Linked DNA regions of Homo sapiens: region 1 is linked to region 2. The links come from fine-mapping of genetic effects on gene expression. A gene starts in region 2. The other region holds a variant in brackets. All regions are shown on one strand. Distances are between the middles of the regions.

Evidence for each region. PIP is the estimated chance that this variant, and not a neighbour inherited with it, causes the effect.
Region 1: its variant is fine-mapped to the expression of MME in whole blood (TOPMed, PIP above 0.99).

Annotation. Positions count from the first base shown.
Region 1 is chr3:154,965,082-154,981,132 of GRCh38, reverse strand. It overlaps LOC105374171 (a long non-coding RNA gene), which reads left to right and starts at 10,868. Exons shown (of 5, transcript XR_001740568.2): 1 at 10,868-11,030. The variant T/C (reference allele first, on the strand shown) is at 7,293.
Region 2 is chr3:155,067,880-155,083,930 of GRCh38, reverse strand. It overlaps MME (membrane metalloendopeptidase), which reads right to left and starts at 3,612. Exons shown (of 23, transcript NM_007289.4): 1 at 3,465-3,612.

The sequences.
Region 1 (16,051 bases), 100 kb after region 2:
AAAATATAAGTTGCAAGTGTAGACAATGACAATTATGTCACAACTCCTACTGTAGAACTATCCATTGAAAGATGCATTGTAATGGCAGAATTGTAAAAAAGTGAAAAATGTACATCTTAGAATATATAAAATATAGTAAAAGTTTTACATGTTTCTATCCATCCCCCACAAATTTGACTGTAGGGAGGATAAGGTCTGAATTCCTCAACATGACATTCAAGGATTTTCATAATGTGGCCCATAACTATATTTTTAACCTAATGTCCTTTCACTTACCCGTGTGTCAACACACCAGAACTTTCATGTTCATGTGCTCCTTTGCCTGTTTCCTTCTCTCCCTGGAGTCCTAGGTATAATGCCTCCTTCTTTGTTTTCTCCATTATCCTCTCCACCCTGACAATATTAGTTTCTCCCTGTAGTTCCTTATAGTATTGTCTTCATTCTGATCATGTACTGTTTCAAGTCAATGCTCTGTGTTTAGTTGAACACATATGTTAATGGCTGTGTCTTTTCATGGTACCTGGAACAAAAGAGATGCTTCATAAAAACATTTCAAGAGAATTAAACTAAAATAAAACTGTAACAGACCCATTTAAAAAGTAAAATAGTCAAAAATATCCCACAAAACATTCTGCTATCATCATCATAATCCAAATAAGGCTATTATCTGTTATTTAAAGTGATTAAAAACTTGATTAAAAACATAGCCTTGGCTGGGCACGGTGGCTCACACCTGTAATCCCAGCACTTTGGGAGGCCAAAGTGGGTGGATCACGAGGTCAGGAGATCGAGATCATTCTGGCTAACAAGGTGAAACCCATCTCTACTAAAAATACAAAACTAAGCTCTGTGTGGGAGTGCATGCCTGTAATCCCAGCTACTCAGGAGGGTGAGTCAGGAGAATCGGTTGAACCTGGGAGGCGGAGGTTGCAGTGAGCTGAGATCGCACCATTGAACTCCAGCCTGGTGACAGATCTAGACTCCTTCTCAAACAAACAAACAAACAAACAGCCTTTACAGGTGATTATGTTGGTATTTAATATTTTCTCTTTTTCCTCTTGAGAAAACTTACTGGGAGACTGGAGTGATGCTCAAATTTCTAGAGGGGTGATAGTAGTAAGTTCTTGATCTGCCTCCAAGGTTGTGGGGTTTGTTGGGTGCAAATGTATTAGATTAAATGAGAAACTGGGCTTTCTATGTGGTTAAAGCCCACACAAGGGGACAAATAGACCCTCCATTCCTTATTTCTCCAAGATGTATTTGCTCTAGAATATTTGGTAGCTGTCATATAGCTTGCTATAAAATGGAAAGGCTCAATCCTTTTTTTGATTATTTAATTCTACATTTGATTGTAATCCCAGCTGCTCAGGAGGCTGAGGCAGGAGAATTGCTTGAACCCAGGAGGCGGAGGCTGTGGTGAGCCGAGGTTGCACCATTGTCCTTCTGCCTGGGCAACAAGAGCGACACTCCATCTCAAAAAAAATAAATAATTAATAATAAAAAAAGTTCTTTAATTAACAGAAACCATTTCTACAATAATTCACTTCCCCTCTCTCTTCGTGCATAAAGAGGATCTTTGTAATCTATGTAATGTTGGCCCTGTTACCATGTGATGTATGCTCTCTGTGCATGGCGGATCTGGGCAAATTCTGCTTTTGTTTTAACCCTTGAAATAACATTTTGTTCCCTTTGATATTTAGAAAAACATAAGCTGATATCACATAACTGATGTTAGATACAAATAACATTGAACTAAAGTGATCATTTAGACTGTATAAAGCATTTTTTGAGAAAATGTTTTTGGTTTTTTTTTTTTTTTTTTTTTTTTTTTTGCAGTTGCAAGATTTAATAGAGTGAAAACAGAGCTCCCATACAAAGGCAGGAGACCCAAAGGGGTTTGCCATTGCTGGCTCAAATGCTTGGGTTTATATCCCGGTCATTGTCCCTCCTGCTGTGCTCTCAGGTGATAGATGATTGGCTATTTCTTTACCTCCTGTTTTTGTCTAATTAGCATTTTAGTGAGCTCTCTGATTGGTTTGGGTGTGAGCTAAGTTGCAAGCCCCGTGTTTAAAGGTGGACACGGTCACCTTCCCAGCTAGGCTTAGGGATTTTTAGTCGGCCTAGGAAATCCAGCTAGTCTTGTCTCTCAGTCCCCGCTCTCAACAGGAAAAACTCAAGTGCAGTTGGGGAGGTTGGCCGACTACCGCTCTAACTGCTTCCTGCTGAACTGGGGCATAGTAGGGGTTGTGCAGTTGAGATTTCCTCAGGAGGGGTGCTTTCGATGTCATTAACATCAGAGCACAGGCTAGCAGGCTGGTCTAGGGGTCTGTGGTAGATCTTAGTCATGGACTACATCTGGGGCTCCATTTGAAGAACTATTTGTAGTTTTACAGCTTCGATTCTGGAAGAGACAAACTTAACAAGGAGGTTAAAGATACAGGGATTGAAATGTATGGCCTGCAGCGCAGGGGATTATTTCTTTGGCACACTTCACAGGCCCTGACTATCTGCTTGATAGTTTTGAAAAGGCCTGGTCTTGTAAATAATGATTTGGCCCTCTGATGGGTGCTATCAATGCCTAAGTGAAAGGCTTGGAGAAGGGTTTTAAGTAATTTCCATTGGTTAGCTGCAGGCAAAAGTATTTTCCCTTCTTCGGTGGCTAGCCATCCTGAGCGAAGGAAACTATGTCCTCGTGAGGTTCCCTATTCTATTTTTCCTGCTGAGTACTGGGGCTTGGTTTCCCAGAAGGGATTACCACATACTAGGGGTCCTTCTATAAGCATTTCTAATGGAGGGTCCTGCCTTGCGGCTCTTTTTACTTCAATATCCGCTTGGCGGTTCCCTTCTATTTCCCTTTCCTTTCCTTTCTGATGACCCCAGCAGTGTAAAACTGCCAACTCTTTAGGTTTCTGTACAGCCAATAATAATCTCCTAATGGCTTCCTGATATTTGATAGGTGTTCCCTTGGAAGTTAGGAATTTCCTTTCTCTCCATATTGCTGAGTGGGCATGGAGGACTAGATAAGCATACTTAGAGTCTGTATACATATTTACCATTAGAGAAAATATGCTTTTTAATGAAGCAAGTTAAAATATACATGTTATGAATTCAACCACACGTCTTTTTGATTTACAGAGAATAATTTGAGGTGTTTCCTGGGAATTTGTACTCATTTATTCATTATTTATAGTGCTAGTTATTGTCTTTTCCAGATACAATTTCTTTCCCAGCAGCACTAGAAACATGTTTTGAATAAATCTTGGCAGAAATAAAGTCAGAAACATTTGAACTTTGTTCAGCCAAAATATAGCTGTATGCTTCATTTGGAAACCAGTGCATAAGAGCAGCTTCATTTTTTTGATATTACTCCTGTGGTTTTATAGTAGTGATTCTTTTTTTCTTTTTTTTTTTTTTTTTGAGACAGAGTCTTACTCTGTCACTGAGGCTGGAGTGCAATGGTGCAATCTTGGCTTACTGTAACCTCCGCCTCCTGGGTTCAAGTGATTCTCCTGCCTCAGCCTCCTGAGTAGCTGTGATTACAGGTGTGTCAACCACCACGCCCTACTAATTTTTTGTATTTTTAGTAGAGACAGGGTTTCACTGTGTTGGCCAGGCTGGTCTCCAACTCCTGACCTCGTGATCTGCCCGTCTTGGCCTCCCAAAGTGCTGGGATTACAGGTATGAGCCAGCGCGCCCGGCCTGATTCTTTTTTTTTTTTTTTTTTTGAGATGGAATCTTGCTCTGTCATCAGGCTGGAGTGCAGTGGCGCAATCTTGACTCGCTGCAACTTCCCCCTCCCGGGTTCAAGCAATTCTCCTGCCTCAGTCTGCCTAGTAGCTGGAATTACTGGCGTGTGCCACCATGCCCAGCTAATTTTTGTATTTTTAGTAGAGACAGGGTTTCATCATGTTGGCCAGGCTGATCTTGAACTCCTGACCTCAGATGATCCACCCACCTCAGCCTCCTGAAGTTCTGGGATTACGGGCATGAGCCGCTGCACCCAGCAGCAATTCTTTAAAACAATGCATACACTTAAATTTGAAGCTTAGCTGGGAGATTTTTGGATATGGTCAAGAAGATATAGGAACAATTTAATGAAGTTTTGTAGGCCAGTTGCTCTTTCATGTTCACAAAACAGTCAAGTGCCACTAATCGCATTTTGACAAACAATGAACCACATATACAACTATGGTCCCATAAGATTATGGTATTTTTACTGTACCTTTCATATGTGTAGATACAATTAGATACACAAATAGTTATCAAATAGTTATCATTGTGTTACAATTGCCTGGAGTATTCAGTATAGTAACATGCTGTATAGGTTTATAGCTAAGGGGCAATATAGCCATATAACCATATAGCCTAGGTGTGTCTTAGGCTATACCATCTAGGTTTGTGTAAGTATACTCTATGATGTTTTTACATCAACAAAATCACCTAATAATACATTTCTCAGAATGTATCCTTGTTCTTAAGTGATTCATGACTATCGTTATTCTTGACTCATCCTACTCTTAAGCCTTTTAACTGAAATACATTTATATTTACTTATTCAAAGTAGAAAGATCTAAGAATTGAATGTTCATTATATAATTATTTCAGAGATTTTTTTTCAAAATAATATTTGAAAATACTATGTATTGAGTCAAAATCTTGTTAAGATAAAAAATAAATGCTGGGTCATCTACTGTAATTATCTCAAGGGTAATTAGTGACATAGCTGAATTTAGAACTTAAATGTGGGAAACTACAGCTCATTTATCCCTGCGCTGTATGATGCTAAAATCAGAAAACCCCTGGAAAGTTACTATCCCCACTAAATTGTCTATATGACGTTGGCCCTGCTAAAAGATGATGAAATGTTCTCTGTGCATGGTGGTTCTGGGCCAATCTGATTAGACACAAGTAACAGCCATCACCCAGTTCTGTTTCAGGAAAAGACCAAGATTGCTTCTTTAAGAAAATATCGTCTTTTAACAATTGTTTAAATAAACAGATTACTTTTCAAGTACACTTCTGATTTACTTTTCATTCAGGTAATCTTAGATATATTTCCAGTTGCTGTGGCATATTAGATAGTTGCTTCTTTCCTAGCTCCATAAATAATTGTTGAATTTGTTGCATGGATGCATTTTATTTTTCTTTGTAGCCTCCCAAGTACCTTACTTGGGCCTTTGCATACGATAGTGGATGGTCGAATTAAGTTGGCATGGGATTCATTCTTTCTCTCTCTTTTCTTCTTTTCCATTTTCCTTTCTTGTTCTTCTCTTTGTCTTTTTACATCTCATTTTTCACCTTCTCATTCCTTATTGGAAATAATAAATCATTTTCCCAAAGCCATTTTGCCAATCACCCTAAAATTTATTTTCTGTAATTTTCCCAGCAGTTTGACAGGTTCAGTACATGTCATGTTGAGCAATTTTTAAGGAAATGTCAGTTATCCCTTATAAAGCTCAGCCTTTTAGAGTTTTGATCCAGGAAATGTATTAGTATTATTCATAGAAACCAGTTTTCATGGCCAATTTTAGCTCATTTGGCTATTCATGCCATCAGGTAAGTAAATATTTCTATTGACCAGGCCAGTCATGTCTGCTCTCCCTCTGTGCATCCAGAGGTCCAGCAAGGAGAATGTAGAAAACGATTTTCTTCTTAGCTTGTAGAGAGATTGGAGTAGGCATTATCCCACATCACATAGCAATGACTAATGACAACTTGAACTGCTGGATACATTCTACTTCCATTCCTAGATAGGTTTAGAGACAGATGACTTACGGAAATCTCACAAAAGGAAAATGGGTTTGTATGTGTATAGACTTATTGTCAAAATACAAAAGGATTCCATAAATTGTTATGGATTGAGTGACTTGAACAAGGATTTAAAAGGCATGTTCACCAGATAGTTTAGAAGAAATATAAACATTTTTGAACTTCACTGTCAATACTGATTGATTTATTGTTTGCAGAGTTTTTTTTGTTGTTGTTGTTAACTAAGGCCTCAAAGACTTTTCAAACAATAATGTTTTATGTGTTCATGGTGCTTTATAGTGTATACATCACATCGCCACTCTCTTGTTTAATTATCATGAAAACCATATAAATAGAGGTGCCATTTTTACATAAATAACATAGAGATATGAGATTGATGTGTTTTACTAAAAATTCCCTGGGAATTTTGACTTTGGTACTATAGGACCTTAAGAATTTTGGAGTCGGCTGGGCATGGTGGCTCACAACTGTAATCTCAGCACTTTGGGAGGCTGAGGCAGGCAGATCACTTCAGGTCAGGAGTTCGAGATCAGCCTGGCCAACATGGTAAACCCCGTCTCTACTAAAAATACAAAAATTAGCCAGGTGTGGTAGCGTGCACTTATAATCCCAGCTACTTGGGTGGCTGAGGCAGGAGAATCACTTGAATCCACGGGGCAGAGGTTGCAGTGAGCCGAGATTGCACCACTGTACTCCAGCCTGGGAGATAGAGCAAGCCTGTCTCCAAAAAATAAAAATAAAAATAAAAATTTGGAGTCACTGTGAGATATACATACACAATATACCTACTTTATATATATATATGTGTATATATATATGTTTGTGTGTGTATATATATATATTCTCACACATTTATCATCAAATAGGTATATTTGAGGTTTGTTCTCCCCAGCCAGGTAAGGTAATATAGTGGGAAAAGCATGGATTTGGAGTCTTAAATCCTGATTCTATCAGCAGTATTGTCTTGCATTAGTTACTAATCTCCCTGCATCTCATTTTCTCATCTAATAATAATAACAATTATTCTACTCTTAGGAGTACATTATGTAATGTAGATAATGTGCCTGAGATGGAATAACCATCAGAAGAGTCCATTTCCTACCTGGATTATTTTGTACAAATGCATCTAGATGATCGTTCCCAATCTCTTCATTAATGAATGGCACCTTTTGAGAGACAACCAGTTAATGTTGCTCTCTGTGGCCTTTGGGAAAGAGAAAAGTAACTGGTTTATGCCAGAATTAAACCTGGAACTCTAACCTAATGAGCAAACAGCAAAGAAGGCAGATCAATTGCAGACGTGAGGTGATTCATCATTTAGACCCTGGAGGTATGCCTTGGGACTCAACTATCTCCCTCATATCTCTGAGACACCAGTGTGAGCTTGGACCCCTCTAAACATTCAGATCTATTCCTATTCCAGCATACTTGTGTCTCAATTCACTCAGTGCAAAGGCGAGAAACTTAAGCTGTAAACAATTTGAACAACTATGGAATACACTAGATTCTATCTTGAGTTTTGT[T/C]TTGCTGATTAAAAACTCATACTGAAAGAGAAGTTTGATTGTAGAAAGAACTGACATGAATTCTTTGGAAGAAAGTTTAATAGAAAAAGTTCTCTCTCTAATTTATTGATGGCCGTGAGGAATTGTGGGTGAGATTTTAGCCATCAGTGGACATATAACAGATATTACTGAGTGATGAGATAGTGAGTGATTGTTTAAAATCTTTACTTCTTTGTGCTTCTCCATATTTCTTTCAATAAAAAACATGATGAGGGGGTACAATCAATCAATGAATCAATCAGTACATATGAGAAAGAAAGACTATTTTGTGATTACTGTTGGGATAGAATAAAACACATTCCCTGAATTCTTAGGAATTGCATTTAATGGAGAGCATTTTTGTCCTATCTATGTTCTGAGCCTTTTTGCTCAGAAGTTAGATTTTCTTTTCCTGAAGCAGCTCTTTCTGCCCATCCATGGATCTCATCAGCACAATCTGCAGGGTTTGTATGCAGCTGGCTTTCCCTGTTTTTACTTCTGAATGGGTGGCTTATTTCTTTCCAGCATTTTTTTTTTCTGATTGACCCAAAATGGGTGCAGATGTGGTAAGCACATGCTGAAAGTTGTTGAATATTATTTTCACCCTTATGAAAGGCCTGACATAAGCAGTTTCAGATTGTGTGAATTCTTAATTCTGCAGTGGGCTTCCAACAGTGGTTCTGTTGCCAGTGATAACAAAAACCTGGGAGAGACCTTGGGCGGTAAACCACAGACTTAGTTCCCAAGAATTGAAGACCTCATATGTTCCTTGGTATGTGATCTTGTGAAATGCAGAGGTATAAAATGAAGTTTTGACTTTCAAAATTGGTCCTAGGGACTAAATTATGATGTAAGGTATTTTCCCTATATGTTTTAGTGCATACTTGTAGAAATTGGCTTCTGTTATTTTCTTGTTTACAACAAAGATCATCTTTTTGTGCCATTTCTGAATTTTGAATTTTCTTTTGGTTCTTTCTAATACCTTTTTGTTAGTGGCATGTTGTATTGAAGAGCCACTAAACTGGGAGTAAAAAAAATCTGCCTGTTTCTCTCTTGTTTTGTGAAACAAGTATATATTGTAAATATATAATTGCTGAAAAATAAGGATAATATTATATTCTACCTAACTTTTGTACACAATAGCTATTCACATTGCTCAAAAGTTGTTTTTCAATACTTACGGAAAACATTTAATTAAACAGAGTTAGCTTGACTGTATGTATTTTTTACTTTGGGGTCTAAAACTGTTCATTCCAGAGGTTCTAGGAAGATGAATTGTTTTTTTAACTGGGGAAATTAAAGACTTACTTCTTGATAGAGGATCATCAAGGAATGGATTACATTTGTATATTTCCTTTTATTTCTGGTAAATAAAAAATTATAGGAGGCCATTGTTTTGAGCTACACTCCTACACTAGACCCCAACAGATCAGACTAAAAATCAAAACGGAGTCGCTCACGCTGTGGTTCCACATTACCAAACCAAAACTGAGTGGTTATCTAACCTTTGGAGAAGCCCAAAAGGAGAGATAACAGCTTAATTTCCCAAACAGACTGGTTTCAATCTACAGGATAATGAAGTTCCCTCTGCCTTTAATCTTTAAAGGGAAGGTAACCTGAAGTAACCTGATATTAAGCAATCAGTTATTTCTCTATTGTTTCCCTGTTCCTGCCTTACAAGGGAAATAGCTTTGAAATGACCAGTCACATTTTGTTCTACATTTCTGCTTTCTTCAGTTCTTCTCCGTCTATAAAACCAAACCCTTCCACTCAGCTTATTGGAACACTTATTCTATTTTATGGAATGAAGTGTTGCCCAATTCTAAAAATGCAATAAAGCCAATTGAGATCTTTAAGATAAATTTGTTGTAGCTTTGTCTTTTGGCAGATCTAAGCATACAAGGGCTAGATTAATGCACTCATTCATTTCCTTATTTAACAAAATTGTATTGAGTGCTTTCCACATACTAGGTACTTTGCCAGGGCCCAGGGGATACAGAGGTCAATTACAAAAACAGTCCCCGTCATATTGTCTGCAGACTAGTGTAGAGATGGACAAGTTAGCTGTTGCAGTAAGAGTGCATTAGTGGAACACCTGAACCTAGATTTGGGGGTCAGGAAAGGAATTCTGAGAGGAAAGTAGAACTGAGAAATAAATAGAAATTATTCAAGCCTGTGTGTGTTGAGAAAGAGAAAGTGGCAGTGTGTGCATGTGTTTGTACTTTAAGGAAGAGAAAGAGACAAGCACAGGGAGAGAGAGAACGTGAGTACACACTAATAGCTTAAGTCTACATTTGGATTGTATTAAAATAACACCAAAAGCTGATGGAAACTCATGCCGCGATCGTCATTAGGCTCTTACAAGCTTGCTGGCCAGTTTCAAAGTTTGCTTTCTTGGAACACATAAAGATAATTTAATAAATTTTCCGTTCGGGGTAGGAGAAAGTTAATAGACTACTAAAGGGCCTAATTTACCTCCCCGGATTAGATTAATCAGACTTAAAATAGGGCATCTAAGATGCAGATGCCATGTTTAAAAGTATACTCTGTGCAATTCCAGAAGAACAAAGTTTTCCAGAAAGCATTAGTGTTTGGTCAATGTAATAAGACTAATTTCTCAAGAACCTCACACCTAGGTTTCAGGTAAAAGGAAAAAGAAAAAGTAATGATGATTCTGTTTTTCCTTCTCAGGCACATTTTTCAATGCATTAGACTGTTTGGTTTGGATGGTGCAAGGATCAAATCTATGTTGTAAGAGGAAAGCCAGATGATCTTTCAAAATGCATCTAAAATTTCTTCAGCCAACTCAAAATGAATGAGTCATGTTGACGTTATACTAGGGAGCCATGTCTTAAGCTAAATTCCTAATCCTTACATGATACTGTTTTTAATCCTTTGGCCTATTTCCCGAACTATTCAGTTGGACTCTTGTGCAGTGTCATTTCTCACACATCTCAGAGCCCAAGTGGACTTCTTGATGGAGTTGGCTTTACATGCCGTGATGCCTCCTTAGCATTTTGTAGAAAGAAATAAGATCCAATCCAGTTTCAAAACACCCTGGTTTGGGAGGATTCTGAAGTTCCCTAAGACCTTTAAAATGCTTTAATTTCAATTCAAGGATGGCAGCATGAATTAATTATTCAAAAGACAAAGGATGCCTCTAAGTGATCCTTCAAACTTGGGATTTATTAATTCATTCAAGAGATATTTACTGAATACTTATTATGCACCAAGCACTCTTCTATGTATTGCAGTGTGGCTGAAATCCTAGACATACCCAGTGCTGAGTCAGAATTTCAATATAATAAGACACACTCCACTGATCAATATATATTAATAAAAAATAAATAAAAATAAAAAATTCCATCAGTTGAGTGTTTCAAATGTTTGGGACAATCAAAATCTTGGCTTTGCCACTCAGTAGCTATGTGACCTTCAACTTCTTTTCTCTGAGCTGCCGTTGTCACATTTCTTAATTGTGTCCAACAACTACTTTCATGAGAGGAATGGAAGAGATTGGCTGTAACAAGTCAAATGCAAGGGGAGCTGCTTTGAGAGCCCTCAACTTGCACTGTTCACCTGTCAGGTTTTATCTTTCAGGGGTCAGCCAAGCCAGTGGGAAGCCTACGACATTCCCCTGGGTCACTTAGTGAACTCCTACTCTTTCATCAGGCCTCACTTGAACATGACTTCCTCCAGAAGCCTTCCCAGACATCTTTGGTGAGTATATGTGCCTTATATGCATTTCTAGGGTATCCTATCTATCTGTATCATAGCATTTGCCACAATTTAATGTGATGGATGTCTGTTCTGTCTTCTATCTTTCTACGAGAGTCTATGCTTCAAAAGGGCAGAGAATGAATGTGTTCTGCTATCTATTTTAGTTCCAGTATTTAGAAGGGTCTATTTGTTATTGTTGAATGAATTAATGAATGTGTATCTGTATCCCACAAGCTAAATAGAAATTTATGAATGAGATAAAGGTGCATATTGGTCTATATTGTTTGCCTTGCACTTGTATACATGTAATTTCAGTTAAGCCTCAAAACCACTCTAAGTGGTGGAAGGACAGACATTTTGATGCTTGTGTGCTGATGAAAATGAGGTTCAGAGGGTAAAAGGATTTTTCTGTGTTTGCAGAGCTAGAAAGTCAGAAGAGTAGAATTGGAACCCAGCTCAGTCTGATGCCACATCCTTTGTTGTTTCCATTAAATCAGAGAATTTCTTAGTGCTGAGAAACTATTCTGGAACTTACAACAAAGGCAAGTGGGAAGGGAGTCGCCTGGAATTTGATCTCTGTAGATGCCTTTTTCATTTAGTTTATTTTTCATTTTTATCTGTTGCTTTGCTCTTATCAAATACAGATAAATAGCAGCTGCTACTGGTGCTGTTGATTGCGATTTCTGTTTGAAAATGGAATCTTGAGCATCTGTTCTCTCCTTTTATATTTTACTGTGAGAGAAAATCTATTTTTTTCAAAAGGTAATTCATACACATGGTAAAAATTTAAACAATATAAAAACCTATTTTTAAAAAACATATACTCTTGAGTATTTCTGTGTACTTTGCTTTCATCACTAATACATCTTTAAGTTTATTCCATATTGGTACGCAAAATACATATTTCATTATTCTAATGATTACATATTACTTAATTCAATTTGTAATACATAAATGGCAGTTTACTAATATAACCATATAAAAAGTAATCTAACAGAAGTTACAATGTTTTATCAGGTGAGCACTACACTGTTATTTTAATACTTGCCAGTTAAATCAAGCAATGTGACTGCTAAAAGTAGAATTCCCATACAGTAGGAAAGCACAATTTATTTTTATAATAAAAGCAATAAATGTGTTTAAAAATTTCAATCCTTTATTGTGAATCACTTGTGGCCAAGTATCACTTAGAATAAGAGTTCTAGAACTAAAAGTGTCTTTAGAGGCCTAGTACAGTTTGTTATAAGGAACACTGTGTGTGTGTGTGTGTTTGTGTGTTTGCATGTGTGTAAGACTATTTAGAAAAGTAAGCTTATATAAAGGTACAATAATGTCTTGTTTATTGAGTATCTACTTTGAGTCTGGCATATCATCAACATTTTATATCATTATCTTATTGCTTACAATCTTAGGGATAGGTACTATTATCATTTTTATTTTACAGGTAGGAAACAGAAATGCAAACTCTTTCTGATTCCAAATCCTATATTTATAACCACAGCACATTATTTGGTCTATTAGATGTAAAACAACTAAATTCCAGAAATAGTCTCCGAGCCCACCTACTTAGCCTCAATCTTCAATCTTGGAGGTCCCTGAAGGGGCTCCTCTAACCTTTAAGGTTTTTCACATGTTTTTACAATTGTTTCAGAGCCCATGCCAGGGTTAATAATCAGCCACTACTTACTGAAAACTGTACCAGTTTTGAAAATATTAAAGTACTTCTGAACCATTTAGTAAATAACCCTCTATGACCCAGCTACTCTCTAAGACTGACTGGTTGTTGTGGATTGAATGGTATCCCCAAATTTTGTATGTTAAAATTCCATTCCCCAAGACCTCAGAATGTGAACATATTTGGAGATAGGTCTTAAAGAGGTTAAAATGAGGCCGTTAGGGACATATCCTAATCCAATATGACTGATATCCTTATAAGAAGAGGAAGAGACACCAGGGATGTGTACCAACAGAGGAAGGGTCGTAAGAGGATACAGTCAGAAGGCAGCTGTCTGCAAGCCGAGGAGGGAGTCCTGAGGGGAGATCAAACCTGTGGACACCTTGGTCTTGGACTTCTAACCTCCAGAACTGTGAGAAAATAAATTTCTGTTGTTTAAGCCACCCAGTCTGCAGTATTTGATTATGGCATCCCTAGGAGACTGATACACTTGTTTCTCTCATAATCTGGAAACTAAAGAGCTGGTTCCTGGCACACACCAGAGGCCTCCCCAGGGGAACTTGCTCTGGTTGGTTACTCCTTGTGACTGTGGACATTTTGCTTGTTTTCAGCAATCTATGCTGTAATGAATGTTCTTGTACATATGTCTATATATTCATCTGGGGATATATTTTAATATACATTTCTAGAAATAAAATTGCTAGGTGGGTTGACTTAGAAAATAACTTCATGTATTTTAACATTCTTCATAAAATACCTTTAAAAATTCATCTGGGCAAAGCTACATTTGTGAAAGACACTTGTGTATTTGTTGTGCTCATTTTGGTTTCTTCTTGATGCTAATAGCTACCTTGCCTTTCAAGGGAGAAAAAGTTTCAAAGTAGAAAATATTTCAAATGCGTTAAGTAGAGGTTTGAAACATCCCATAACCCGCTAAATGAAGCCCAAAGCCACAAAGGGCAGAAAGGTCTAGGCAGCTCTGATAATGACTTTAAGTGGGAGCAAGGCTGCAGAGCACCATTGCTGAGAATAAAGGCTTAACATAATGCCTTTCTCCTGGGCATCCTTTGCCCACAAAACTTACCCATAATGACAGTTTACATTATGTTCATTCCTTCAGGAATAATTACTGTGCCTCCATGTGGAAGTTTTCTCATTCCAAAGAAGCAGGATCATCCATCATATTAATGTGATATGGTTTTGCCAGATGCCAGATGAATTAGCAAATGGTATTCAACATACACATTCATCAATTCTGACTAGTGCATAAATAAAATCATAAGGATATATCTTTGGAAAATACTGGTGGGCATTGTCACAATATTTTAAAAATTGTCCAGACAGGTATATTTTTCTCTTAGTCACTTGAAACATTTAGAATTAAATTAACTTTTGTCAAAAGATGGTTCTTCTTTAATATAAATTGAAAAAGGCCAGAGGCAGAAATTCTCCAAATTGAGGATATATCAGAATCACTGAGGGTATGTTAAAACACGGATTACTGAGGCCAGGTGCTGTGGCTCACACCTGGAATCCTAGCACTTTGGAAGGCCCAGGTCAGGAGTTCGAGACCAGCATGACCAACATGGCGAAACCCCGTCTCTACTAAAAATACAAAAATTAGCCACGTGCGGTGGCGGGCGCCTGTAGTCCCAGCTACTGGGGAGGTGGAGGCAGGAGAATCACTTGAACCCGGTGGGCGGAGGTTGCAGTGAGTTAAGATTGTGCCACTGCATTCCAGCCAGGATGACAGAGACAGACTCTGTCTAAAAAACAAACAAACAAACAAACAAACAAACAAACAAAAAAACCAAAAAAACCAAACACAGATTCACAGATTACTGGTCCTTACTCCAAAATTTTAGACTGAGTAGGTCTGGAATGGGCACATGGTTCTGCATTTTTAATAAGTTTTCAGTTGATGCCAATTGATGCTTCTAGTCTGGAGAGCACACTTTGAGGATTGCTGGTCTTGGAAGGTCTTTTACAAGATTTAAGTCACATACCAATCACTTAGGTATCTTTTGAAGATACAGATTCAGATCCAGTAGGTCCTGGGTGGTGCTCAAGATTCTGCTTTTTTTTTTTTGAAACAGAGTCTTGCTCTGTTGTCCAGGCTGGAGTACAGTGGCATGATCATGGCTCACTGTTACCTTGAACTCCTGGGCTCAAGGGAAGATTCTGCACTTTGACAATCTCCTGAGAGATGCTGCTGGTCCATGGGCCACACTTTGAGTATCAAGTGTGTTTCAATGTATAGTATATTTAGTTGGTTGACAATTTAGGGGTTGTCTGAGTAAAAGATAAAGGTAATTTTTAAAATATGTATGACTTTCCCCACTTTCTTGCAGTTTCTCTATTGAATGTTGAATGCCTTGAAACTGATTACCAGGCCTTTTAATGTAACTTAGCTCATGGTCCTCTCACCCAGAAAATGTGACCAATTTGACCCATACTTTCCACCTCCAAATTTTGCTGAGGCCCAGTTTGATATGTTTTCAATTACATGCTCAGAAATAGAAACTGGACACAACACATCTTTGCTCATTGAGACCATGTATATGCAGAGTAAATAAGTAATTTACCTAGGACACAAAACCCAGGGCAGGTATGCTACTTGCCCTCTTGTTGCTTAGGAGAGGCAACATGGTGGGAGTGGATTCTAAAGACTGTGTAAGGGAAGAAAGGAGATAACCTTGATGATCTGGTGATGATAACAGTTTTCTAGAAATAGGGTGTGGCCTAGGTAGAGGTTTAGAGTCCAGAGTGGGGGCAATTACCCATACACAGTAGCTAACTTCTCTAGCAGACTTTTGAGGTAAGAAAGTAGAAGTCTTTTCCATTTCATGAGGCCAAGTGTCATAGGAGGACTTCAGACTTCTGTCATCAGTTTCCAGCATCCATTCCTCTGTCCTATCACTTCACCTACCAGTGTATATCAGTTCAAACTGGGGTCATTAGGCTCCAAAGGATTGAATCACAGAACCATAGAATCTCAGAGTTGAGAAGAACCTTCTGGCTTTTTCTCCTCTGAAACTGTGATTCAGCCCTAATGAAACTCAAAGTAGATACGTTCATAATCCATCTCTAAGATAATATCTCCTAGATATCAGAACAAATTCAAAATATGAGGATCCTTTGAGGAGTATTAAGACACCTCAAAACTGAACTAAAATTTGGAATCAATAAAATCAAATAGTGTTGGAAAGGATGAGAAGTTTTGTGGGACACTTCACTCAACTATGGAAGAGTATGCAAACTAATTTGTTCTCCTATGAATATTGCAAATGTTAGCCCCAGATTTTCTAAGTTGGCATTAGATTCAAACATTCTATGTATTGTACAC
Region 2 (16,051 bases):
TTTGTTTTGCTTTGGTATATCACTGAAAATCTCAGCAAAATTAGACAGTAAGACTTGGTTAAATACTCAAGTAGGATTAATTCAGCAGTTTATAAGCAAATAATTGCTGTACCATCATTAAGAAAGTTTTAAACTCACCCTTTTGAACTCTGGACTAACATCAATGGTTAATTTTATATCTTGCTCCAGTGGCTTCCTTTATAAGCTCAAAAACCAGTGACTAATACCTTGAGGTTTTGACTAAGCAATAATTTGAAATATTAATATAGATAAACAGCAAAACGAATGAACACATGAAGTAGTTTATTTTAGTCATAAAAACAACCTTTATTTTTACAGTTCAAAATTACTACTACTACTGATACCAGTATCTATTAACTGGTTAGACAACATTCTGAAAATGGTCACTCACTGTACCAAAAGATACCTGAATATCCAACCTAACCACGCCCAATCCCATTTAAGAGGGGAGTAAGGGGGATAAGTAAACAAAATAGTACAAAAAGTTACCAAGTTGATACTTGTAGTCCTGTATAAAGCAGGGTATGCAAAAACATACCTGTATTCCTAAAATCTTTCACCTCAACTGGAGATGTGTTAAAAACTTTAAACCAAAAAGTGGACACTGCCACAGAATAGAATAAAGAATTAGGAAACTGGGGCACAGAGAAGTCAGGCAACGTGTTCAAGACTACACAACTCGTCAATATTCTTTGTAAAGAACACATTTGGTCACTGTTCAAAATAAAGCTGTATCATCATGCAGTAAAAGCGTACTGTAGAAATTTAGGGGGAAAATTAAGGGGATATAAGCCTAAATATTAAATTTCATCAGGGGCCTAGTGACACTTTATCAGCCAGTCTCCAAGGATTAGAACACACAATTTCCATTTTTCTGCATGACTGTATAAAAGAACATCTTAAACTAGCAGATTAGCTGTTTATAGCTCAATACAAATTGCTCTTAGAATTTGGTCCCAGGATGAAGTGGCGGCTCAGAAATGCTCTTATAGTTAAAGATCTTTGTTGAACACACACAATTCTCTAAGGGTGTGTTTTGTGGAAACTGAGGCATAGGAGAAAGAAGAAACATATTCTACATTTGAAGTATGGTCTGGGAGACCCAGCAGAAAACTAGAAATTAACCTTCCCAGTGAATTATTAATAAGCGAACCACAGCTAGACCTTAAAGTTCTGGATACAAAGTCTTAAACATGCTGTCCCCTTGATTACATGAGGCTATAAGCAAGGACAGACTATCAAATAAAAATATTTTATTACACAATGAAAACCGTGTCTGCTAAATAAAAGTGGAATGTAATGTACCTGAATGTTAAAATGTCTTACTTAATGGTTATGTAAGGCATGCTGGCTTAGTCTCACCACCCCTGGGGTTATGATATGGAATTGCATTGATTGTAGTCCTATTTTAATAGTGTATTGGTTGGGCAAAGGAAAGAGGGGAACAAATTTAATAATACTCTGGACACTTTACAGAGAGGTAAACAATAATAATTCTCCCAGTCTCCCCATGTTTCATGACTGTCCTAAAGAACACCTGAATGTTAAGCACATTTGCTAAAGTATTTCCCTTTCCTGAATATTGTTCCCCCCGCATATGTCAGAAGACAATGTAGAGAAATGTTTTACTGGTATAAAAGGACTTTTTTTTTTCTTAGTTCTTCCTTAGAAATGACAGTCAGTGTCCCTGTAAAGTAAAGCGAAGGGGTGAACCAGGGCAGCCTCAGGGTTAAATTACAGGTGCTCTGTGGAAACTCCATGCCTTGTGGTGTAGTAAAGCTAGTGGATAAGCATTTCTTTCTCCCTGTAAGTTACTTTCCCTTGGCTTCTCCTCCTTACCCTTGAGACTGGGTACTGAAGCAGCTGGGCTCTTAATGGGTCAGCACCCAAGTTTGCAGAAACAGTTACAGAGAAATGAAGACAGTGACAGAAGCTGCATCAAAACAATATAATCTTTGAATCACCTGCAAAGTCTTCCTCCATCTCCCCCTCTTGTAAATGCCCTGTAAATTCTTAAAGGAAGTCTTTTGCTCTTAGTAGCCTTTTTTCAAAAGCATTGAGCAAAAGCAGAAATGATGCAAGTTTAATCTCCTAATTAACTTTGTCGTTCATTTCCAGTTAATTCTGGAAGGTTCACAATTTTTCTTTAAGACATCAGGGGACAGTATCTGGAATCTCACTGTGGAACATATGACTAAACCCCAAATACCTGAATATCCAACTTAACCACACCCAATCCCATAGAGAAGAGTAAGGGGGACAAGTAAACAAAAGAATACAAAAAAAAAAAAAATACCAAGTTGAGGCTTATAGTCCCATATAAAGCAGGGTACGCAAAAACATACCTGTATTCTTAAAATATTTCACTTCAACTGAAGATGTGTTAAATAAAAAGTTTAAACGGAAAAGTGGACACTGCCACAGACGAGAATAGAGAATTAGGAGGTCTAAGATAACAAGAACCTGCAAACTTCAGCTCGACAATATTACCAACAGAATAAATTACTATTTTAAGTGTAAGCTTAATTTCAAAGCAATGTAAAGCAGCAATTCTTATACCAGTTGAGCATAAGCATTACTATATCAGACAGTCAAAGCAGGAAACCTGGATAACTGATTTGTTAAAAAGGAAATCTCATTGACTTACAGACTTAGACTTAGCTAAGCAGTTTTCATCTTCACTGCACATTATAACATTAACTTATATCTGCAGGTTCCTGAAGCTGTGCTATGCAATTACAGTTTGTTCTATGGAAACTGAGGCACAGGAAGAAGGAGAAACAGTTTCCATATTTAAACTGTGTCTGCAGAAGCTGAGGACAGAGGTACTCAGGATAAATCATCTTCTTGTTTCCCAGACATTAATTAGGTGTTTCCCAGCCTGAAATACGGAGTTCTGGACACGAAGTGCCAACCATATTACTCCCCTGGTTAGTGCTGCTCTACAACCAAAGACACAGGGTTAAGTCCAAGAAATTACCAGACAATTTTTTAAAGTGCTAGAACCCACAAAAATGGCAGGGGATGAAGCTACACGCCTTCATACAGTCGATTTGCCGACAAGCACTTTCCAAATGCTGACGCTGCAAGTCAGGTACTAGTTTTCAGTTTAATAAAATTGCCATTTGAATCATATATGGGGGAGGAATCGACTTGATCGAGAAGCTAAAGAGGGATATTTGGTTGCAATTACCCTTATTTTGAAACCAGACAAATAGACTGAAACCAGTTAAGAGGTCTTAAACTTTCATCTACAAAAGGACACACCAGCCCCGCACCGACCAACCCTTGTGAGATTTAAGCATTAATTATATAATAGGAAATCAGGTTAAAAGCAAGATGAAGAGGTGGGATAATGAAAAGATCTTCCGGTTAAGAAAAGTAAAAATAGAAAAGTGAGTTACAAATGAGAAAATCCGACAGAAACCAAAATGAAAACAAACCTTGCTTTTTAAAAAGAAGAAAAAAAAATCAGTGTCTGTACAGCAGAATGGCAAATTCCCAGCCCCCAAATCAGCCCCGGTGCAATCTGGTAGCGCGGATCTCGGTAACAAAACATAACTCCCCAAGGCAGAGGCCGCAGGGAACTATGGAAATGAACCTGAAGAGCCAACCTGACGTGACTTCCAGAGCCCTCCTCCAGGTCACCCTCTGGGCCCCTCTCCCTCCCCTCACTCTTCAGGTCCCAGTAGCGGCTCCTTCCCAGGGCACGCCTCCTCCACGGCCGCAGGGTCCTGGGCGCTCGGATCGCGCTGGACCTTAGCTGCGGACCCTGCTCAGCGCACCTCCCGGCAGCCGCTCCCCTCGGCTGGCTCTGCCCTCCCCGTGCCCGTCCCACGGGCTCCCAGCGCCCTGGGCGCTCGCGCCCTTTGGACCTTTCTCCCTCAGCTCGCTCTCCTGGGACTCACCAGTGGGATTCGGGAGAAGTTGGAGGCTGCTGAGCCGACACATCCCGACCAATGAGCGCACGGGGCCGGGTGGCAGTGGCGGGCTGAGAGCCCAGCCAAGCGCCTCTCAGTCCGTGCATCCGCCCAAGGCGCGCGGGCTCCAGGCTGAGGCCGGACTTGGGGGAGGTTCCGGACCCGCCTCCGCCCGGGCCGTGGGGCGACGAGGCACCTGGGCATCCCTCCGACCCGCACCCACAGAGACTCACCGTGACCCCTCAGCAGATCCCGCGCCAGGAGTTGGGCGGCTGCTCCAGCCTGCTCTCGGTCAAGCTTCGCCACTTGCACATCTCCGCGCCCCGCGCGTCTCGGCGCTCTCACGGCCCACCCCCCCCACCCCCTACCCCGCCTCGCCGCTGCAGGACCAGAGAGAGGAGCAGTTCCCTGGGTGACCTGAAGGTTTCCGCTAGGTCTCCCAAATCCAGTCACTTCATGTGAGGGGGCCGGGGAGACGGGGGGCGGGCGGTGGCAATGAAAATGTCCCATCCTCCCCACCCCCCATCTCACCATTCCCAAAAGGGCTTTGCTAAACATTTTTAGAATTGCTTAGCTTCGGGGCTTTCAAGAAAACAATACACGGGCTCTTCGGGATTCTCTAGTCCTGAGGGGGCTCCATCTCTCCCCTGTGGACCGGAGACTATAATGCTTGCCTCTTCTCACGCTCTTCTTTCGCTCTCTTTCCCGCTCCCTTTCCTCCCTGAATCCAAGCTTCCTTCCTTCTTCATTTAAATGTCCTCTCTCCCTCCCTCCTTCGTTTTCTTTTTTCTTACTCTCCCTCCCCGTTTCCTTCTTTCCTTCCTTGCTCCTGCTTTCTCCACCCCGCTTCCCTCTTTCTTCCCTTTCTTTTCCTTGGTCGAAGTACTCTCATGTCAAGATCTGAACTGAAACTCTCCGCTCCCACCTCCTGACTTCAGGGAATCTTAAAACGTGTGTACATCGGAGGTTGAGGGTGGGGAGTGAGAAAGAGAAAAATAAACTAAAGTGTGTCTGCTCTACCTACTGAAATCAGCCGTAATGCGCCTGGACCCTCACAGTTTAATGCAAGCAAGCAGCGTACCCCTTTCACTCAAGACACAGCGATTCCTCCTCAAAGGGGTAAATACAAACAAGGAAATAAATACTTTAGGCACAAAGGCAGTTTCTTTGTAAAAGCTACCTTTAGCAGCTATAATTGCCAAGGAGCTCAGAGGAACTAAACTTCCTTTTTTTTTTGCTTCCAGTGTACAAGTACCTTTAATACTGATCCCTTTCCTCTTTTGAATCACAGGTAATTACACACACACACACACACACACACACACACACATACACACACATATTCACACTCCACTGCGGAATTCATACTGAAATAAAACTGGGTTTGCAATTATCTGTTTTTAATATCAAAATGATTTGCTGCTTGAGAAGAGTCCCCTTGTGCTAAAAAATTTTCCATCTTTTTCATAGCAGAGAAAGCTGAAAAGCAAGGAGAAAAGGTAGTTCATCCTAATAAGTGGAATACAATGGAGAGACATTTCCCCAAAAAGCTAACCAATCTTTAAATAATTCGATTAATATAGAGGAAAAATGGAGTGTGTAGACCTAACAAGTGCTATTGACGTCTATTTACGCTTTCTCTGTGCATCTTACAGACACTATTTAGTCCTCACAACAATCCCGAAATATTGGTGTTTTCACTCCCACAAATAAGCATGCGGGGCTTGACTAGCGCCCTGGAAAGCATCTCAACTGGAATTTTTTTTTCCTACAGAGTCTCGTGCTGTCGCCCAGGCTGGAGTGCAGTGGTGTGATCTCTGCCTCCTGGGTTCAAGCGATTCTCCTGCCTCAGCCTCCTGAGCAACTGGAAATACAGGCACGCACCACCACACCGAGCTAATTTTGCTTGCGTGTGTGTGTGTGTGTGTGTGTGTGTGTGTGTGTACTTTTACTTTCGGGGTTTCTCCATATTGGCCAGGCTGGTCTCAAACTCCTGGCCTCAAGTGATCTACACACCTCGGTCTCCCAAAGTGCTGGAATTACAGGTGTTAGCAATCATGCCTGGCGGTGAGGACTCTTTTAAAGGAAAAAAAAGGATTTACTTAAAATGTATGACAAAAGAAAAAAAAAATGCCTACTTAGAGTTAATTTTAGACTCTGACTTTCAGCTGATAGTCGACAGTATGGATTGGTAACTGGTTTCCCAGAACAAATATTTTTTTCTTTTTCTCTTTTCTTTCTGTTTTTTGTTGTTGTTGCTGTTGTTCGTTTTTTTTTGTTTAGATGAGGGTCTGACTGTGTTGCCCAGGCTGGTCTCTAACTCTGGGCTCAAGCAATCCTTCAGCCTCAGCCTCTTAAGTAGCTTGGACTACCCACATCTCCCTTACAATATCTTGATTTCATTAAAGTTGATTAGAAACTTAGGGTTTTTGTTGTTGTTGTTTGTTTGTTTGTTTTTAAATCAAGAATGCTAAATCTCCTCCCAGAAGTTTGTGCAAGTTTGAGATAATTTTTTTAAGGGATCTTAAAGAGTCCCCAACTATTTACAGTAAGTAAATTTAGACAACTGAGGCTTACTGAGGTGGTCCAAGATCACTCAGTTTGGCCACTTATAGGAATGGAGGAGAAAGTAGCCCTCCTGGTGGCCATACATAAGTTATTAAGAATGGAATGCATTGGTTCTAGCAGTTTGCAGAATGGATCCTTAAAAACCACTGTGTGTGACACAAATGCTTGATGAATTTTTTTAAGTCCTTTAAAAATGCTATAGTGCATTTTTATATGCACCATTGAGCCAGCAGGCAAGTAAAAGAAAATCTTAGAAGCCAAAAACAAAGAGAGCTGTCAGAGGCATTTGGACCAGAGCAACTCCATCTTGAATAGGGGCCGGGTAAAATAAGGCTGAGACCTGCTGGGCTGAATTCCCAGGAGGTGAGACCTTCTTAGTCATACGATGATGTAGGAGGTCGGTTGGCACAAGGTATAGGTCAGAAAGACTGTGCTGATGAAACAGGATACTGTAAAGAAGCCAGCCAAAACCTACCAAAACCAAGATGGCCATGAAAGTGACCGCTGGTGGTCCTCACTGCTCATTATATGTAAATTTTAATGTATTAGCATGCTAAAAGACACTACCACCAGTGCTATGACAGTTTACAAATGCTATAGCAACATCCAGAAGTTAACCTATATAGTTTAAAAAGGGGAGGGACCCTCAGTTCCAGGAAATCTCTGCCCCTTTCCCTGAAAACTCATGAATAATCTACCCCTTGTTTGGCATATAATGAAGAAATAACTGTAAGTTTACTCAGTCAAGCCGCCTATGCTGCTGCTGTGCCTATAGAGTAGCCATTCTTTATTCCTTTACTTTCCTAATAAACTTGATTTCACTTTATGGATTCATTCTGAATTCTTTCTTGCAAGAGGTCCAAGAACCCTCTTTTGGGGTCTGGATCAAGATGTCTTTCTTGTAATACCGACAAAAAAATCAAGAAGGATATGTGAGTGCTGAAAACAGTAGCTGTCCTGGTGGTATCTATCCATTTCAAGAGGCCTCACTGGACTTAAGCGACCTAGAGCTTTCACTTTAACAGGACTTGCAAGTGCCAAGGGACTTCATACAAAGTGTAGTCCAGGGCAAAGTGAAAATGTGGGCTAACAAAAAATGAAACTCAGCCCCAACTCCGACTCCTCACCCCTACTCTTCCACAAGAAACATAGATATACTTGCTTTTTTCAGTCCTGACTCAGGCTGGTAAACTTACAACAAAAACTTTCTGTAAGAATTCATGATTTGGCCAGACTTCAAATGGATGTAGGAATAGAATTTATACTAATTGTGTAGCCTGAGTATTTCCAAGTTAAAGATCTATGGTAAAGTAGTCCAAGCTAGACTGTTCAAAATAAAAATTGAAAAACTTCCCACCACTGACTGTAACCAAAGGAACTTCTTGAGAATGAATTTAGGAAGCAAAATAATAGTTTATGGAAGATCTGATATGTGAGAAAGAATGATAAGCAAAGAATATAGTAACAACATAAATAAATCTAAGCAAACATTAACAAAAATAAAAGAATGGTGATAAAAAAGATCAACTAAAAAACCAGACAACGGGGTGTGTAAGCTGGGAGAGTTTAATTAGAATTAAAGCACTCTGAAGTCTTTACTCAATCAGGCCTGGTGGTGTGCACCTGTAGTCCCAGCTACTCAGGAGGCTGAGGCAGGAAAATCACTTGAGCCCAAGTTTGAGACCAGCCTGAGCAACATAGTGAGACCCTGGCTAAATAAATAAAATGAAGTCCTTACTTATGTTGTTGGAAAGAAGGATAATGATATTGATTAATTATATACTTTAGACTTTATTAGGTTAATTATGTATGTAAAAAGTACTAATACAACCACAAAAAAGATAAAAATAGAGTGCATAAGGTCAAGTTTTGCAGAAAGAAAAAACAAAATTAAACATAAGTCAATCTAAAGGAGGACAGAAAAATAAAAAGTATTAGAGAAGAACATATAGGAAGTATAACATAAAATGCTAGAAATAAATCAAAATATATTAATTGCAATAAATATAATTGGACCAAATTCTCCAGTTAGAAGACACAGATTGGCATAAAACAAACAAATAAACAAAATTCAGCTGTCTTCTGTTTAAAAGAGACACACTTAAAACATAAGGCTATAGCATAGTTGAAAGTAAAATAGTTCAAAAAATATATCAAACAAATATAAGTGAAGGATTGCTGGTATAGTAAAGTTGTAATAAAACTAAAATTTTACCAAAAAAAGAGATTAATCAATTCAGCAGGCTGATAACATTGATAAAATTCTAAGCTTGATTACATCTAGTATCATAAATTTTAAGTAAATACTACAAAAAATAATATAAGAATTAAAAGGGTAAAATCACCCATGTTAATGGGTGATTTTAATACACCTTTCTCAATATTTGATATGTCAAGTGCACAAATCAGTAAGGATATAGAAGATCTGGATAACAATATTAAAAGATAATCCAATAGAAATATATAGAACATTTCACCCAAGAATTGGAGACTGTATATTTTTTTAAGCACCTATGGAATATTTATAAACATTGATTATATGCCAAACTATTAAATAAGCTACAGTGAATCTCAAAGACTTTTCATAACACATTTTTGGACCTTAACATGATTAAATAAATATAAAACCACATATATATCTAGAAATTGTTAAACAATGCACACAAACACCTTAAAATAACACATAAATTGGCCAGGTGTGGTAACTCATGCCTGTAATCCCAGCACTTTGGGAAGCTGAGGCGGGAGGATCACTTGAGGTCAGGAGTTCGAGACCAGCCTGGCCAACATGGAGAAACCTCCCCTCTGCTAAAAATACAAAAATCTGATGGGTGTCGTGGCACGTGCTTGTAATCCCAGCTACTCAGGAGGCTGAGGTAGGAGAATCGCTTGAATGTGGGAAGCGGAGATTGCAGTGAGCTGAGGTCATGCCACTGCACTCCAGCCTGGGTGACAGAGTGAGACTCTGTCTCAAAAAAAAAAGAAAGAAAGAAAGGAAACACACACACACACATAAATCAAAGAGCAAGAGCAAATCATAACGGAAGTGAAGAAACCTATAACTGAATGCAATAAAAATATTTCTTATCAATATATGTCAATTGAGGTATCTATCAATAGCAGAAAATTTGTAGCCTTAAATAATTTTATTTTGGAGTGAAAAAGCTAAAATTTAATGAGGTGAGCATATAACTTAGAAAGTTAGAAAAAGAAAACAACAAATCCTAAGAAAGTAAACTGAATGCAGTAGTACATAAAAATGACCAGAGATAGTTTTCTTTTACCTTCAAATTAAAATTAAATATGAGTTCAGTAGTAAGTATTGTGTTAGAAGGCCTGGATGGTGTAGTTGGAAAAGAGAGAGAGAGAGAGAGAGGAAAAGGAAGGAGAGATGAAGAGAAGTCAATAGAAAAGAAGAAATAACTAATTAAATATTGGTAAATTATGTAGTATGATCATCAATACTGAAAAACCAAAGTAATCTACAAAATATTACTCATATTTATAAGACAGTAATATGATTGTTGGATAAAAGATCAATATTAAAAAATTAATTGCGTTTTTACAAGAGAAAAACATGAGAAAACACAACCTTAAAAGACCCATCTACAGTCCTATAGATAGATAGACAGATAGGCATTGGTATAAATATATAGATATATCCTTAAAAAAGCATTGTAAAAAAAAAGGCAAGAAAAGAATATGCAACAGAGACTTAAATCATCCTTAAAGCCTAAAACATTTATTATCTGGCTTGATACAGATAATAAATGGCCAGAATTCTACTGAAAAGACAGCCAATAATTGGTTTTGTTCTTTACAAGGACACTTTTTTTTCCTCTTCTGGCAGATTGTACAAATTGATACTCTTTTCTAAAATTAATGTCATTGTGTTTTATTATTACCCACTACTATTGTTTAAAACATTCTATTTACAGCAAATTAATGTGGTGCACAAGGCTTAGTAGACTTCATGCACTGATTAGTGTCTAAATTGATATTTCTATTAGTGGTGTATAAGAAGTCAGGTGAGTAAGACTTGGTTTTATTTGGAGTTTTAGCTGGCATTTACTTATTAATTAATGAGACTGCACATCTCCTGTGCTGTGGTCGTTTCTATTTATTCTTCATTTTAATGTCTGTTTGTTCTTAAAAATGTAAGATCATTTTTAACTTGTAGGCTCGGAAATGGGCCACTGACCTCTATTGGATTTAGCTGACTGGTTGTAGTTTGCAGATCCCTGGCTAGTAGATCCTCCAGAGATTATGTGATTCTATTGGGATATGCACCTTCGGTTGACTTTTCATTGACCAAGCTATTCCACAACTCGGAAAAATTTGCCCTTGTTGGAAACCGGTAGTGATAAAAATGGATTAGTTTAGTAATTTGTAGGAAACATAACAATACAAATGATTCTTGTTTAAAACCATGCAAATGAACTTTTTCCAGCAGAGATCCTATTGATTTCCAAGGAAACGATAACTCTAAACATTACATTTTATAGGCTAATAAAAGTTTTGAGAGGCCAACATAGTTTTTAAAAAACTAAACTTTGGTAAACTTTGGTAAACAATTTTAGAAAACATTTATATTATCCAGAATTTTTAAAGAAACACATGACTTACAGCCCAACAAATTTACCTTTAGGTGCAGTCTCAGAAAAAACCTGCAGATATGTGCAAGATTCTGTAGCAGCATGGTCTATAATAATTTTCAAAAAAGTAGAAACAATACAAAAGTCCATTGATAGGAGAATGGATAGATAACTGTAATACATTCATAAAATAGAATACTGCACAGAATACAAAATAACCAACTGCCCTAAACAAACCAACAAACCAACCAACCAAACAAACAAACCAACTGCAGCTAAACTACACAGAATACAAAATAACCAGTTGCAGCTAAGCAAATGAGAAAAATAATGTTGAATGAAAAAGCAAGAAAACTCTGTGTAGAATATTATAGATACAAAGAAAACAGAAGATGTAATGATTATGTAATCAGGGAATCCACAGTTTAGTGGGTAAGAAAAATGCAAACAAGCATTTACAGTAGATTTGCATGTGATGGAAAAGTGTTTACTCTTTTTGGCATGGTGGAATTTTGTGCAGTGGAGCAATAAAGTCGGAGTGTCCGTTATAATGCCTGTGTTGCATTGATGGGAATGAGGAGGATGGGAAAGGATGGAGGCAAGGAGATCTGTTAAAGGGCTAGGACAGTGATTCTTTTTTTTTTTTTTTTTTTTTTTTTGAGACGGAGTCTCGCTCTGTCGCCCAGGCCGGACTGCGGACTGCAGTGGCGCAATCTCGGCTCACTGCAAGCTCCGCTTCCCGGGTTCATGCCATTCTCCTGCCTCAGCCTCCCCAGTAGCTGGGACTACAGGCGCCCGCCACCGCGCCCGGCTAATTTCTTGTATTTTTAGTAGAGACGGGGTTTCACCTTGTTAGCCAGGATGGTCTCTATCTCCTGACCTCATGATCCACCCGCCTCGGCCTCCCAAAGTGCTGGGATTACAGGCGTGAGCCACCGCGCCCGGCCGACAGTGATTCTTATGAGAGATATTTTAAAAATAAATAAGTGATCTAAGGCAATTGGAGAGATTTTTGAGGTAAAATCCATAGGACTTAGCGACTTTTTCATATTGAAAGTAAAGTAGAAAGAATCCAGAATGACTCCTACAGTATCAGGCAACTGGATAGATCTGTCACTTCATTGAGATAGGGAACATTTGATAGTGGTGGTGGTGGTGAGTTGTGGATAGGATGATGGACATCTTGTTGAAATTGTAGCATTACTGTCATACAATGAGATATTTGCCACTCCTGACAATTTGGTAAAACATCTAAATATTTGTTACATGCCAAATGCAATAATTAATTGTGATGATGGGAGAAATACGACTCAGAAATATTATACCTCCAAATTTCATTCAAGAAAAAATACCCTATAATTACCAAATGATTATTTGAAAACAGTCACTCACTAAGCAGTTTTTCAATTGACTACAGCTGAGTGACTGAAAATTAAATTTCAAAACATAGAATTGGGCCTATTCCCTGGCTAAACTGTTCCATGTGCTGATACGGTCGGGCAGGAAAGTCCCTCCCTAACATGCTGCACGTGCTACGCGTATGAGGATGTGACTAAGCTCAGTTACAGAGATATGCTTATCCCCTCATGTCTCCCAGATGATTATGTGTTTCATCCCAGCAACACACTAAAATTCCTTTACTGGCAATACGCAGAGAAACGGGAAAGGAGGGTAGTTTCACAGCACAACTTGTGTGGATAGTTTGCATTCACAAGCCTGGAACCAATTCTGGCCTGGAGGGAGGGCTGATTTTGAGCCCTTGGTATGCCCATCACCACATACCAAGGAACATGTGCATATGATTCATTCACATTAGACCTCTCTGATGCATTTCCTGTGGACAGCTGTGGCCCTGACTCTGGGGGCGAGAGCAGGGTATTGAATACTACACAGCAGCAGCCACAGGAATAAACCCAAACACCCCAGATTTTTCTCAGGGGGACATCTGCTCAATTTTGGCATGATTAACCTTTAAATCTCTGGTTCTTTCTGACTCTGATGTTTGGCAGAGGTGCGGATTCCAGATAATCAAAACTAGGACAAGCAAGGTGAAGAAATGCGTCTTCTAAGCAACTCCTGAGTGGGAAAGTATATGTCTTAACTTGAAAAAATCATATTCAAAATGTAATCAATTCCCAACTTCTCTTGGATCCTTAATGCTTCCAGGAAAAGTGCCAGGTGAAATAGAAATATCTAAATTTTAGACTTTTATGTTCCATGCTTTATTTATTTATGCTTTATACCGTACCAATCCTTTTGCAAAGATAAAGCTTATCTTGAACCCCATCATTCTTAATCCTTTTCATCAGCTGGTCATTCTTACCACAAGCATTCTTACCAAGTCAGATTATTGCATTTACCTAGATCCTTTAAGTCCAAGCAAAAAGAACACTTTTAAAAACTCATCCTGATCTGTTTATGCAGATGTATGTACATAGTGGCTTCTGGTGTATACTTTCATTATACTGTTTAAAATATCTCAAAGTCAAATCCTAAAGAAACGAACTGCTCCTTGTCACAAGATGCTTTTAATGTAAGAAATCTTTTCAAGTATAGTGATTTAGGATGTTATTTCACAAAAGCTTATTCAATGCACATTAATGCACCATAAATTTTAAAACTAGGCCAGAAAAATTAAAGAAATAAAAGTGTTAAGAGAGCCCATTTGACTAGTGCAATATTGTATATAATTGAAAAATAGCTCCAAAAACATTAAACAATATGATTGTCTTGCTTTTGTCTCAATCACACTAACTATATTCTTATAGGAGAGTTGTTGTCTGTTTGCATCGTCCACCTGTCTTATCTAGTGGTTATTGGTAGAGGCGGCAGTTACATTCCAAAAGGAAAACAATCTCTTCCTGTTCCCTCTGGTCATACCCATTTCCTGTTGCTTCTGGGGCTGGGTAGGGAGGCAGTTCTCAATAAGGTCCTTCTGCTGACGTTAACCAACATCACATGGACAAGGGCAAGGGAGTCACATTCTTGTTGAGTACTAGGATATTAAAATAGCTGAAGGTAATGGAGCCTATTCCTAGTCCATTAATCTGATGGTATTGCTTTTTACTCATTTGAAACCCAGTGAGTTTCTTCCTGCCTAGGAACTCAGGGTGATATTAATTTCTCCAGTCACTATTTAAGTAGGTGTTAATAAAATAAGAAGGGTTCTCCATAAAGTACAATGTTTCTCTTCCTGTAATATCATGAATAAATTGCTAAGGCAAAATTTCACATTATAACAAGGAATGATACGAATAATATTATTTGAAGGTGTCTCAAAGAAAAAGGGCCAGGTTAGTGCTCTTCAATTACTGGGATTTTCATCTTCCTTCCAAGTCATTCACTTGTGAGCTCAGTCATCCTGGGCCTTAACAAACCTCTCTCAACTCTGAGTTGCCACGAGCTGATCAATTCTTTCATCCCTCTCACTGAAAGCATCTTTAATTTTCTCTGTTATTTCTAGCCTGATGACATTTCTTAATCTTTAATACATCTATTTCTTGAACTTTCAGTTCTCTTAGCTTCTACAACATTGTACTGGTCTCTCCCTCCTCTTTGTCCTCCATTTGCCTACTAAATAAAGCATCATTTCTTCTCTTTTCATCTCTCTCTTTCTAGAATTTCTTCCTTGACTGTTTTTATCCATATCATTATTTCAGCTTTGATCTCATGGCAGACAACTCCCAAACCTACAAAAATTAGTCCAACATATTCCCCCCTTTTCCTTTCATTTGTAGAATGCTTCACAAACCCATGCTCTCGTGAAACCTATATACTTTACAGGCTCAGCCTTGTTCCAGTTCATCTAGGCTTGACACATCCCAGTGGCCTTCGATGAGTCCTTTATTATTCCCCAACAAACAATGAATTTACAAATCTCAGCATTATCAACTCCACAGGATCTCTTGAATCTTTTTCCCTACACTTTATTTCCAAAGCCAACATTAGGCAGCAGAAATTCTATTCTCTTATTTTCCCTGGATTATTATACTAACATTTTGAACATTATCCTTAGAAAGACACTATTTCATCTTTTCTTGATCTCAATTCATTGTTCACATTATTTCCTGGTCGATTAAATAGAAACTCAGAATATTTTACTCACTCAGATGTTCAAAAACTTTCAATAACTCTCTAGGTCTGCAAAATTCTGTATTTTCAGATTTTATGCCTGCTAAGCCTAATTTAATAAAACTTGTGCTACTTTAGCACATGCTATGCTAGGCCTGTTAGAATGTGAAATGTAGTTAAAAGTATAGAAACAAAAAAATGTAGCTGATATCATGACACCAGTGACACCGTGTCAGACCAGCCTAAAATATTCAAGTTTTGGGAGGAATTATTTTGGCTTCAACAGCTTTATTAATGCGTAATTGACATAACAATAAACTGCACATATTTAAGTGTATAATTTAATAAAATGTGACATTTATTATGTATATGCCCATGAAAGAGTCATCCAATCAAGATAATAAAGTTATCCGTCACCTTCTAAAAGTACCTCTTGTGCCTTGGTGATGTCTCCCTGCTGCTCTTCCCCACCTATCTCTTATTCTTAGGCAACCATTGATTGCCTCTCTGTTACTATACCGTTTGTATACTAGTTTGCATTTTCTAGAATTTTATATAGATGTAATTACACAGTATACACTCTTTTTTTGCCTTTTTACATTCAGCATAATTATGCTGATATTCATTCACATAGTAGCATTAGTTCATTCTTTTGTTTATTATTGAATAGTATTCCATTGAATGGATATCCCTTAGTTTGTTTATCAATTCCCTTGTTGATAGAAATTTGTTTAATTTATAGCTTGGGGCTATTACACATAAAGCTTCTGTGAAAATTCATTTTTAAGTCTTTACATGAACATATGCTTTCACTTTTCCTAGGTAAATATCTAGGAGTGCAATAGCCGAATCCTGTGGCAGTAATGTTTAACTATT